Homo sapiens: one gene and its partners. The protein of the gene in region 3 purifies or fractionates together with the protein of the main gene of each other region. This does not show direct contact. Each region holds a gene or a part of one and is shown on either strand. Other genes may lie near its edges. The genes, in order: SEPTIN8, PSAT1 and MOCOS.

Region 1 (3,650 bases), on a different chromosome or scaffold from region 3:
CCACGTTTGCCTCTACTTCATCACGCCCACAGGGCACTCCCTGAAGTCTCTAGATCTAGTGACCATGAAGAAACTAGACAGCAAGGTATCCCTGTCCCCACCTGCTGTCACAGGCTCCATAGTCTTCTGCTGCGATGCGATGTGGTGGCTGCCTCATGCCTGAACACCATGGTCCTCAGGGACCTGGTCGGGGGCTTGTGGGTGGCCCCCCATTGGCTCGGTCCTCTCTCTGTCTTGCGTCTGTTCCTCCTGCTCCAGTGGCCCCCAATGCTCTGGGCTCATTCTCCAGAGTCCTGTGCCCTGGGTCTGACCCTGAGCCCCTTGCTTGCAGCTGAATCATTCTCATTGTCAGCCCCTCCCGCTCCCGATAGTGTTTGTTCCCCTTCGCTCCAGGGAACCTCCCTTCCCATCTCAGCCTCTTCTCTGCTCATTTTCTATCTCTCAATTCCTAATTTCTAGCTCCTCCTTTCACTTCCCCCTTCCTCCCTGACATAAATGTCCTTTGGTTCCTTCTGAGCCCATCAGGGAGAGGAGAGTTAAGGCCCAGAAATGGGATGTGAATGAGGGGTGGGTACTGTAGGGGTAGAGAAGGGAGGCAGCTTCATGGGAAGGACTGGAAGTGCTGTGCATCTTGAAGGGCATGTGACCCCACATCCCTTGTCAGCTCTCACGTGACTGCCCTCCCATCTCAGGAGTTCATTTTTATTGTAAAAAACGGGATAGCCTGGGCCTGGGAGATTTTGGGATCTTCTTATGGCTACTGCTGATGGGTCCTTTTACCTGCTTAGTGGGGAGCATAGCCCCCCCACCACTCCTTCTGTTAGGCCCCAGGCCAATTAGGACCTTCAAAGGATTCTGGGTCAAAGCTGGGTATGCCTAGGGGGACCAGTTTTGGGGCTGGATGGTGATTTGGGGGAACCAGGGCTGTAAGAAGCACTGCAGCCAATTGTTGAAACTCATCAGAATGGCCACAGGTGGCTGGGTTTGCACTATGGCTGCCCGTGGGAGTGGCTCCATCTCTCTGGCCTCCTTCCCCCTGCCCAGGGATATGGCCTGGGCATGTCTATCCATATCCTGGGCATGGCATGGGAACCACCGCTCAAAAGAGCCAACCAGCCTGCTGTCCCCTCCCCTGATCCTGGCAGGTGAACATTATTCCCATCATCGCCAAGGCTGACACCATCTCCAAGAGCGAGCTCCACAAGTTCAAGATCAAGATCATGGGCGAGTTGGTCAGCAACGGGGTCCAGATCTACCAGTTCCCCACGGATGATGAGGCTGTTGCAGAGATTAACGCAGTCATGAATGTGAGCGTTGGGTGAGGGCCTCAGGGCCCTGGGGCCAGAGGGCGAGGAGCCGGCACAGATCTGACACAGCCCCAGGAGACTCTTGTTCCCCAGGATTCCAGCCTTAGCTTCTCCAGGACAGAAGGGTGGGCATCTGGAGCTGGCCAGTCCTACATCTGTGGGCAGGGGACAGGAAGAATCTGATAGTGGGCCTACACTGGGGACCCCAGGTTTGGGTGTCATAAGATCTGGACTCATGGAGGAGCCTGGAAATGGAAGCAGTTGAGCAGGCTTAAGGGTTTGGGAACCTGGAAGGGAGCCAGGCTCACAGGTCCTTTCAGGAAGCTCTAATGGCCCCTGGGAGGCCCGAGTGCTGAAAGAACAGCCTGGAGAATCAGGAGCACCAGGGAGGGGGTTGAGGGTTCAGCCCACTCCCCTGTTTGGAGTTCTGGGACATTTCTCCAGAAGAGAGCCAGGAAGTAAGCATCTGGCCCTGGAGCCTTTGTTCAGGTCTGGCTGCCCCTCCCTAGGACCCAGGGGCAGGGAGGGAGAGTCTGCCATTAGTCTGTGTCAGCTCAGGGCTTACGCATACCCGGGCCCCTTTCCAGGCACATCTGCCCTTTGCCGTGGTGGGCAGCACCGAGGAGGTGAAGGTGGGGAACAAGCTGGTCCGAGCACGGCAGTACCCCTGGGGAGTGGTGCAGGGTGAGTGTGGACAGGAAATGCATCCTGGGGGTAGAACTGAGTTCCCTGGCCTGCCCTGCTGCCTGTAGTACCCTGTGCTGTTTCCTCCTCATGCCCACCTGCGTGCCTACCCTGACTCTGGAGTGTGCCCGCCTGCATGCCTGCCTGATACCCCACCGGCCCTCTGCTTTCAGTGGAGAATGAGAATCACTGCGACTTCGTGAAGCTGCGGGAGATGTTGATCCGGGTGAACATGGAAGACCTCCGCGAGCAGACCCACAGCCGGCACTACGAGCTCTACCGGCGCTGCAAGTTGGAGGAGATGGGCTTTCAGGACAGCGATGGTGACAGCCAGCCCTTCAGGTGACAGCCTGAGCCAGAGTGAGCCTGTCTTCACAGCTGTGGCCAGACACACCACCCTGGCATCTGTTCCCTGAGGGACCCCACATCCTCTTACCCCTCGTGCCCACATGATTCTACTTCTCTGGCTCTGCCCTGCCCTATCCCATTCCGTCATAATCCCATCCTTGGCCTCTTTTCTCTGGGTCTCCACAGCCTACAAGAGACATACGAGGCCAAGAGGAAGGAGTTCCTAAGTGAGCTGCAGAGGAAGGAGGAAGAGATGAGGCAGATGTTTGTCAACAAAGTGAAGGAGACAGAGCTGGAGCTGAAGGAGAAGGAAAGGGAGGTATGTGCCAGGCTGGGGGCTGGGATGGGGAAGCTGAGGGAGGGAAGGCCTGGCTGAGGGTAGAGGTGGGGGTGCCTTCCTGGCCCAGGCTCAAGCCCTCCTCTTGCTCCCCGCATCTTCTGCCCCCTTTCTGATGCCAGCTCCATGAGAAGTTTGAGCACCTGAAGCGGGTCCACCAGGAGGAGAAGCGCAAGGTGGAGGAAAAGCGCCGGGAACTGGAGGAGGAGACCAACGCCTTCAATCGCCGGAAGGCTGCGGTGGAGGCCCTGCAGTCGCAGGCCTTGCACGCCACCTCGCAGCAGCCCCTGAGGAAGGACAAGGACAAGAAGAAGTAGGTGGCAGGCTGCGCCTGCGCTGGCTCCTCTTGCTCCTGTGGGCTCTTGCTTTCGTTCTTGTCCCTCACCTCCCTTCTCGCTCTCCTGCTCGCCCTCTCTTACCCCTTTCCTGTTTGGTTTTCCCTCATCTTCAGTGGCTCTCCCCCCAGCTTTCTTGGTTGCCTTTTTCTTTCACTAGTGATCCAGTGTCTCGCCGTCTGGATTGCTCTGATACTCATGCAGTCTCACTTGCACAGGCAATCTTGTGCTCCCCCTCCCTCTCCCTTCTCCCTTTTTCTCTCCTTCTCTTCCCCCTTCTTCCTCTTCCTCCAACTTTCTTGCTCACCCATTCGCTCTCCCATAGCCCCCTTGGCAGCTGTGGCCCTGTTGCAGCGTGGTGAAGGTGGGGCTGCACGGGTGAGGAGCAGCGTGGAGAGGGCGAAGCTGCAGGGCTCTGGGAATGCTGGGAATGGTCTTTCAGGCCAGGGGCGGGACAGGACCTGGGAATGTCAGCATCTCCAGCCAGATTCCAAAAGCCGTGGTGGTTTCTGCTTGGACACCTGTGGCGCATCCCTCCTCAGTCTGTGGGGCAGTGGTGTGGAGCCCGTATTGGCTGGCAGGTGGTGATGGAGAACTGCGGGCACTCGCGCCAGCCAACACTGGCCTCCTGGAGACTGG
Region 2 (3,650 bases), on a different chromosome or scaffold from region 3:
CTTTTTCTCTTTATTTTTTATTAAGGGAATCCTCACATACACAAAGATAAAAGTAGTGTAATGAACCTCCAAGGACCCATCTCTGAGACTCAACAATTATCAACATTGTGCCAGTCTTGTTGCAGCACCCTGGGACGAATCTTATTCACAGCAGGCTCTTCCTTCTTCCTGCCCACCCCACGCTTCCCAGTCTAGCACCTTAGACCAAAAGAGATCGGAAAATTGAGTTACCTGTATAATCTGGGCATAATTTTTTTATCGTTGTCCCTTTAACCCAGAACTTTATGCATTCTTTACTTTAGCTTTAGGAGAGTGGTGAATGAGATTTGTGAAGGGGACATTTTCTAGGGAATCGGTAAATTCGGGCCTTTGGAAAAAGTGTATCAACATCAGTCACATTGCCTAATTTCATGCTTACCTTGTGTGTAAGTTGCATAATCGCTGGCTTTGTGGACATGGGAAGGAAGGAGACTGGCTGTGGGTGGGGATGGAAGCCTGGGGACCTCACTGTAGACCCTTCCTTGTCCCCTCGTCAGGTTTGTATGTTCAGAGGGAAAGCAGTGCAGAACATATTTAAATAACCCTATTTTCCTTTATTTTTTTCTAGGTGTTGTTAGAGATACAAAAGGAATTATTAGACTACAAAGGAGTTGGCATTAGTGTTCTTGGTAAGATTTACTTTTGAATTCTGTGAATGTCCATGTTTCAAAGGAAGCTTTTTTTTTTTTTTTTTTTTTTAGAGGCAGGGTCCTGCTCTGTCACCCAGGCTGGAGTACAGTGGCGTGATCATAGTTCACTGCAGCCTCCAACTCCTGGGCTCAAGTGACCCTCCTGCCTCAGCATCCTGAGTAGCTAGGACTATAGGTACACATCACCACACCTGGCTAATTTTTTTTAAATGTTTAAAACATTTTTTAAAGATCCCATGAGATGGGATCTCACTTTGTTGCCCAGGCTGATCTGAAACTCGTGGCCTGAAGCCATCCTCCCACATTGGCCTCCCAAAGTTTTGGGATTACAGGCTTGAGCCACTGAGCCCTGGCCCAAAGGGAACTAATTTAAATGCATCAAATATAGAATTACAGGGCCTATAGGGTCTTCCTATAGGCCTTTATAGATACATTTTTAAACTTTAATAGCTTGGGTTGCATGTCTGATAGAAACCATTTTGAAAATAGCATAAATGCTGGTGAGAGGTTCTGACATCTCAGCTTACCCTGTCATAATTGGTTTTTGCTAATCATAGGATTTAGGATCAGAAGATACTGTATATTTGCATAACAGTGCCTCCAAACATTTATAATATTGCTTTACATTCAATTTACAGTTTTTATTATACTTAAATACAACCTCATTAAAGTTTAAAAGTACATAAGCCTTTTATGAAGACCTCGCACATTGATAATCTTATTAAGTTTCCCCTATATTTTTTGGGAAGAGGACCTCTGCATTCTAAAACTTATTTTCTTTTATTTTTGGCGGTTCTGAAGACTGCATGGTATTAAGAGACCATAGGGTTAACTATATTGCTTATTTCTGTTAAATTTTGCTCCTGTTGGTTTGGGACATATACTTAGATTTCTGTGAAGTGAGATCACAGCATGGAATTTTGTGCTCCAGACCTAAAGGGCAACTGTTGCACATGGATTCCTGTTTGTGAGAAAGAGATGGTAAGAAGAATCACAGAGAGCATCACGGAGTGATGAATTAATAAATAACTTGCTCAGTGAATGTACCACTTGAAAAATCCTTCTGCCATGACTATAAAGCTAAAATGTTTGCAATTTGAAAATCAGTTTGTATGGTCCCCTAAACTAAGTGAGCCTTGGCCCACAATTTGAATGCAGAATAACTGAAATTTCCCTGTATTGTTGTTTACTTGCAAATTTCGTAGGTATTTCTGTTCATTTGGTTTTGAGCTGGAATATTTGTTATTGTTGTTTATCTTTCCTTTCACAGAAATGAGTCACAGGTCATCAGATTTTGCCAAGATTATTAACAATACAGAGAATCTTGTGCGGGAATTGCTGTAAGTTTTAAAAAGACCAAATCATGTTACTTTTGTTAGATACTTCCTAAATCTGGATGTCTTCCAGTATTTTCTACACTCTATTGTTTGTTCAGAATATTTCATAATTTAAAATAATCCTTGTAAGATTCTCTCCAATTCACTATTAGTACCTAACGCTTTTTATTTGTTCCCCATCCCGTGTTTATATGTTTTTGTTTTTATTTTATGTGATATTTCCAAAGATTTGAAATCATTGTATCTAGGAATGATTTTTCAGCACTGTGGCAGTTAAACTGGTGTGAAAGAGATGTAAATGACACAGAAATGGTCATCTTTGTCAGCATAATTGACTATAAACTAGTTCAGGTGTTCTCGAAGTTTGAGTCTCATACGATCTGTCAGAGTCACCTGGTTAGGGGGAATATTAAAAAATTCAAGTGGGGCCGGGCAAGGTGGCTCATGCCTGTAATCCCAGCACTTTGGGAGGCCGAGGCGGGTGGATCGTGAGATCAGGAGATCAAGACCATGCTGGCTACCACGGTGAAACCCCATCTACTAAAAATACAAAAAAAGAAAAAATTAGCTGGGCATGGTGGCGCATACCTGTATTCCCAGCTATTCGGGAGGCTGAGGCAGGAGAATCGCTTGAACCAGGGAGGCGGAGTTTGCAGTGAGCCGAGACCGTGCCACTGCATTCCAGCTTAGGTGACAAAGCGAGACTCCGTCTCAAAAAAAAAAAAAAAAAAAAAAAAAAAATCAAGTGGTGGGCACCACTTAGTCCTGCTGAATCAGAATCTCTGGAGAGACTTTATTTTTAACAGGCTCTTTGGGTAATTGTAAGAGTTCTGAACTGTAGGAACTACTGCTTAGACGAAATCTCCTGGGTTATCTGTACTGCCTTTCCTATCCAGAGAATCCCTTATTCTTAAATAGATTGCTATTTAAAGGAGAGATTTTTATATATTATATAAACATGTTCACATAAACCTACGAATATAGCAAGTTTGAAAGCATACCATTTTTTTTCCTGCTCACAGAAATAATGCACATTTATGGTAGGAAAAACACTGTAGCTCACAACTAAACTGAAATTAACTTTAACCCCACTAATCAGGGATAATCACTAATATGTTAGGACCCATTCTTGCATTATTACATTAACAAAATTGGAATTATACTGATTATTTCAAGTTTTCTTTTTCAAATTGCTTGATAAAATGATTCAGATGGGGCAGGCTTGGTGATATTTCTGTGAGGAGCTGTAGACGCTAATTGCAATGTGAATGTTCAGAGCTGGTAGCCATCTGCTTGGCTTCTCTCGTCCATTGGCCTGCTGAGTATCATGTCACATTCATAGGACAATCCTGTCCTTCATGGAGTGGGTATTTGGAACATCAGCCTGGGAGAGATGACATTTGACCACATGGCTATGAACTTCCTCTGACTGGGGTCCCAGTTCAATTTAAGGGCCTATCTTTTCTTCTCCTAACCTGGTTCCCACCTTGTATACCTGTACCTAGACCTCGGCCTGGTTTCTTTCCATCTAATTCTTGGCCTTGTTAACTGCCCTGCATCTGAATAATGTGAACCTGGAACTCTGTCTTGGGTTATCAGTCTTCCCAGCTGCTAAGAACCTCAT
Region 3 (3,650 bases):
TTTTTGTAAAGATAGGCTCTTGCTATGTTGCCCAGGGTTGTCTTGAACTCCTGGGCTCAAGCAATCCTCCTACCTTGACCTACCAAAGCACTGGGATTATAGGCCTGAGACACTGTACCCAGCTGGTAAATTTTATGATATAGTTAAAAAAAAAAATCTCTCCTCACTAGTAAAACCAAATGTGATCGGGAAGAGTATTTTAGAGCTGGAAGTCAGCTCAGAAGCAGGCCAGTGCAAGAGTCTGTTCTACATGTTCCAGACAGGTGGCTGTGGCTCTGTTTAACTCCAGAGAATGCAGTATACAGCCTCAGGAGGATGCCCTTTTCTCCAAGCATGAAGCAGAGCCATGAACGCCACTTAATCTAAGTCCCCACGTATTGCCCTGCAGATCCCACCACCACTGCTGATGCCTTTCCTGCAGAAATAATTGATCCCGGCCTCCAAATATGTGAAGGGGGCCACTGTGCTGCCCTTAGCCATCCACTTTCAAGGAGGAAGGCCCTCCTCCCAATGTCACTCTTCCTCTTAACTTCTAGTTTTGCTCCCTTCCTGGTGTCCTCACCAAATGTGTCCCAGAGTATCATGACCTCCCTCAAACTTAACCCCCAGACAGGCTTTGGTAGGGCCTGACCTATAAGACCAGGCACCAGCATTTCTCAGGAGCTACATGTGCTCATTAACGCAGAATTTGCCCTTTAGTTTTAGACTTTTTTTTTCCTCCAAAATACACTGAAAGATTGCACTGGATTTCTGGCCACTGCAGCTACCATATGTTCTGTTTCCACATTGCTAGTAACCTGTGGGACCTGGTAATTATCCTCATTGCCTTTCCTCTGCTTGGCTTTAGCGCTGCATCATTACCACCACCTGCAATCTCAACTCTGCCATCTCTCAGGCTTTCCCACGGTTATGGCTCTTGCAAAGGTTAAAGAAGGAGAATTACAAGAACCTTTGCAAACTGCAGATTAAAATCAGGATAAATCCCTCCTTGGCACCTTCCCAGAAGACTGTTCCCCAGATTTAAATATCTGCTGGCTGCCCAGAGCCAAAATCCAAACCCCTTAATGTGGCATAACAGAAGTATCCTGAATCGAGGCACTCTGGTGGAGGCTAAGGGCTTGGGCTCTGGAGCTAAACTGCCTGCAAACACAGCTTCTAGCTCCTCCAAGCTCCAGTCCTTCCTGTGCAGCCTCAGGCTAGTTACTTGCCCTCTCTGGGGCCCCATTTCTTCACCTATAAAACAGGAGTGATACCAGAACCTATGCCTCTTGGGTTGTTGTGAGGCTGAAGAGAGAAAGCTCATAGCGAGTACCTGATAAATGTTACTTATCGTTATTCTCATCACAAATATTACAATTGCTACTGCCACTATGATTTCAAGTTCCCTTTCCAAAGTATGTGAGATCATGTTGTGCTGCAAATAAATGCCACTGATGACAATGCCATTGCTCCTAGAACAAAGATCAAGCATCTACAATGCCCTGCACTGGCTTCTTCTCCCTCCCTCCCCATTCAGACCTCTCCCACTCTTCTCCCTTCCGTGTTCCTGGACTGGTTCCTGAAACCACTATGGGATCTTGGCTCAGGCTGTTACCCTGCCTGCTCGCACTTCTCCCCCTCTTGTCTGAGTGAATTCTGGCTCATCCTCCAGCATCCACTCCACTCCAAAGGAAGCTTTCCCTAGACATGCACAAGCCAACCCCACTGTCACTGCAGATACAGGCTGGCCTGGAACCAGGCACCTTTTGTCCATAGTCCTTCACACAGTTGGTAATCACATCTATTTGGAGTTCACTTAAGGTCTTGTCTTCCAGGACTAGATCACAGTGTCCAAGAAGAAAGGGATATGTTTATTTTGTTCCCATTATAGCACTGTCCCCCACACATCATAGTGGCTCAATGAACAGTTATAGAGTGAATGACTGAATTAACATCCCTCCTGCTGCCCCACTCTCTGCACTATACAGGGTCACTCACCACCACCAAATACAGCACCTTTGAATCTCTGTGCCCTTCCTAACACTGGCCTCTTCTTCTGGTAGTAACCTGTGTGTCTGTCCCTGAGCCAGCTCCCTCCATCCCGGCCACATGTTTACAGTACAGAATGACCCAGGGTGCTTGCCTGGCCCCTATCTTACATGGGGCTTATTCAGCTTTTTGTGGTCAGAATATTCCTGGCCTATTAATCCAGCGTTTAACATGCACAGGTATATCAGCTGCATGTAGTTGACTAAAACCTGTTTCAGGTGTTTTTCTTTACCATAAGTGTTTTCCATGAGATCACTAGTGAAGCTTTCGAGCTGGCTCTGGGAGAACAAGGTGGCACCTGCATGGTCAAGATAGACAGTTCCTGAAAGAAAACACAAAATAAATACTAAAATTTTACCTGAATCTGGTTTGTGTAAGCCCAACCAATGTCATCTAATGCATGCAGACGTAACATCAGGCCACTGACTTGTGCCTCTTGATATGTGCCTCTTAATCCAAGTGTAGGCATGAGCAGTGGAAGGACTGCACTTCTAATGCTGAAGGACTTTTAAAGCACTGAGAGAGCCCTCCTGATTAATCAGCTCTCTTCACTCTTTTGTGAACCTGGAACAGCATCCCACACAGAGAAGACGCCCAGCAGACATTCGTGATGAATGATGGCAAAGCTGTTTCACATTGTCACTCACAACCTATTCTGGAGGTTCTGGGAGGAGTCCCTGAGGGGAGAGCCCTGATCCTACTTTCCCACACTGCTCTGCACCCCTCAACACTAATGCAGCTGCAGAGCTTCCAAGAATACAAGGAATGCAAATGATCCATCCAACCTCTCTCTGAGAGAAATGCAAATTTAGATGAAAATGAGATACCGCGGATTACTGATCAGATTGGCAGAGATCAGTGGTTGGATTCCTCACTGTGTGAATGAAGCTGTGGCGAAACAAGCTCACTGGTACACGGCTGGTAGGAGGGTACACAGGTACACCTTTATGCTCAGCAATTTGGCAACATCAGTTCATGCTTTAAAATGTACACACCCTTTGACCTAGCAATTCCACTTGCAGGAATTCATCTTACAAATACCCACACTTTTGTGGAATGACCTGAATATAAGGCTATTCGACGAACTATTGCCTGCAATAGCAAAAGATTGGAAACAACTTAAATATCCATCAATGCGCTTTTAAAATAAACATTGTACACTAATAATAAGTACTGACATGAAACAAACTCTGAGATACACTTTCAAGTACATATAATGTGAAGAGATCCATTCATTCACTTATCAAATATTTTGTTTTGTGTAGAATGGGTTGTTTTATCACAGCTTTATTGAGATATAACATAAAATTCACTCTCTTAAAGTATACAATTCAGTGGTTTTTAACATATTCATAAAATTACATAAATACCAATTTTAGAATATTTTCATTCATTCCCAAAAGAAATCCCATATCATTACCAATCACTCCCCAATGCCTCCAACCCCAGCCCTTGATAACCACTAATCTACTTTCTGCTTCTCTAGATTTGCCTGTTCTGAACATTTCATGTAAAAGGAACCATACAATATGTGGCCTTTAGTGTCTGACTTCTTTAATTTAGCATAATGTTTTCAAGGTACGTCCACATTTTAGCATGTATCAGAACTTCATTCCTGTTAT

What was found.
Region 1: the proteins of MOCOS (region 3) and SEPTIN8 fractionate together in Homo sapiens (co-fractionation; one large-scale study listed by BioGRID). This does not show direct contact.
Region 2: the proteins of MOCOS (region 3) and PSAT1 fractionate together in Homo sapiens (co-fractionation; one large-scale study listed by BioGRID). This does not show direct contact.

The regions. Positions count from the first base shown.
Region 1 is NC_000005.10:132,760,141-132,763,790, reverse strand, and holds part of SEPTIN8 (septin-8), read left to right. Parts: coding exon 1-85; intron 86-1,145; coding exon 1,146-1,307; intron 1,308-1,894; coding exon 1,895-1,991; intron 1,992-2,164; coding exon 2,165-2,333; intron 2,334-2,525; coding exon 2,526-2,658; intron 2,659-2,798; coding exon 2,799-2,989; exon of another isoform or gene 2,990-3,650. UniProt on the Homo sapiens protein: Filament-forming cytoskeletal GTPase. May play a role in platelet secretion. Seems to participate in the process of SNARE complex formation in synaptic vesicles.
Region 2 is NC_000009.12:78,299,995-78,303,644, forward strand, and holds part of PSAT1 (phosphoserine aminotransferase), read left to right. Parts: intron 1-607; coding exon 608-668; intron 669-1,959; coding exon 1,960-2,029; intron 2,030-3,650. UniProt on the Homo sapiens protein: Involved in L-serine biosynthesis via the phosphorylated pathway, a three-step pathway converting the glycolytic intermediate 3-phospho-D-glycerate into L-serine.
Region 3 is NC_000018.10:36,193,957-36,197,606, reverse strand, and holds part of MOCOS (molybdenum cofactor sulfurase), read right to left. Parts: exon of another isoform or gene 3,300-3,650; intron 2,351-3,299; coding exon 2,261-2,350; intron 1-2,260. UniProt on the Homo sapiens protein: Sulfurates the molybdenum cofactor. Sulfation of molybdenum is essential for xanthine dehydrogenase (XDH) and aldehyde oxidase (ADO) enzymes in which molybdenum cofactor is liganded by 1 oxygen and 1 sulfur atom in active form.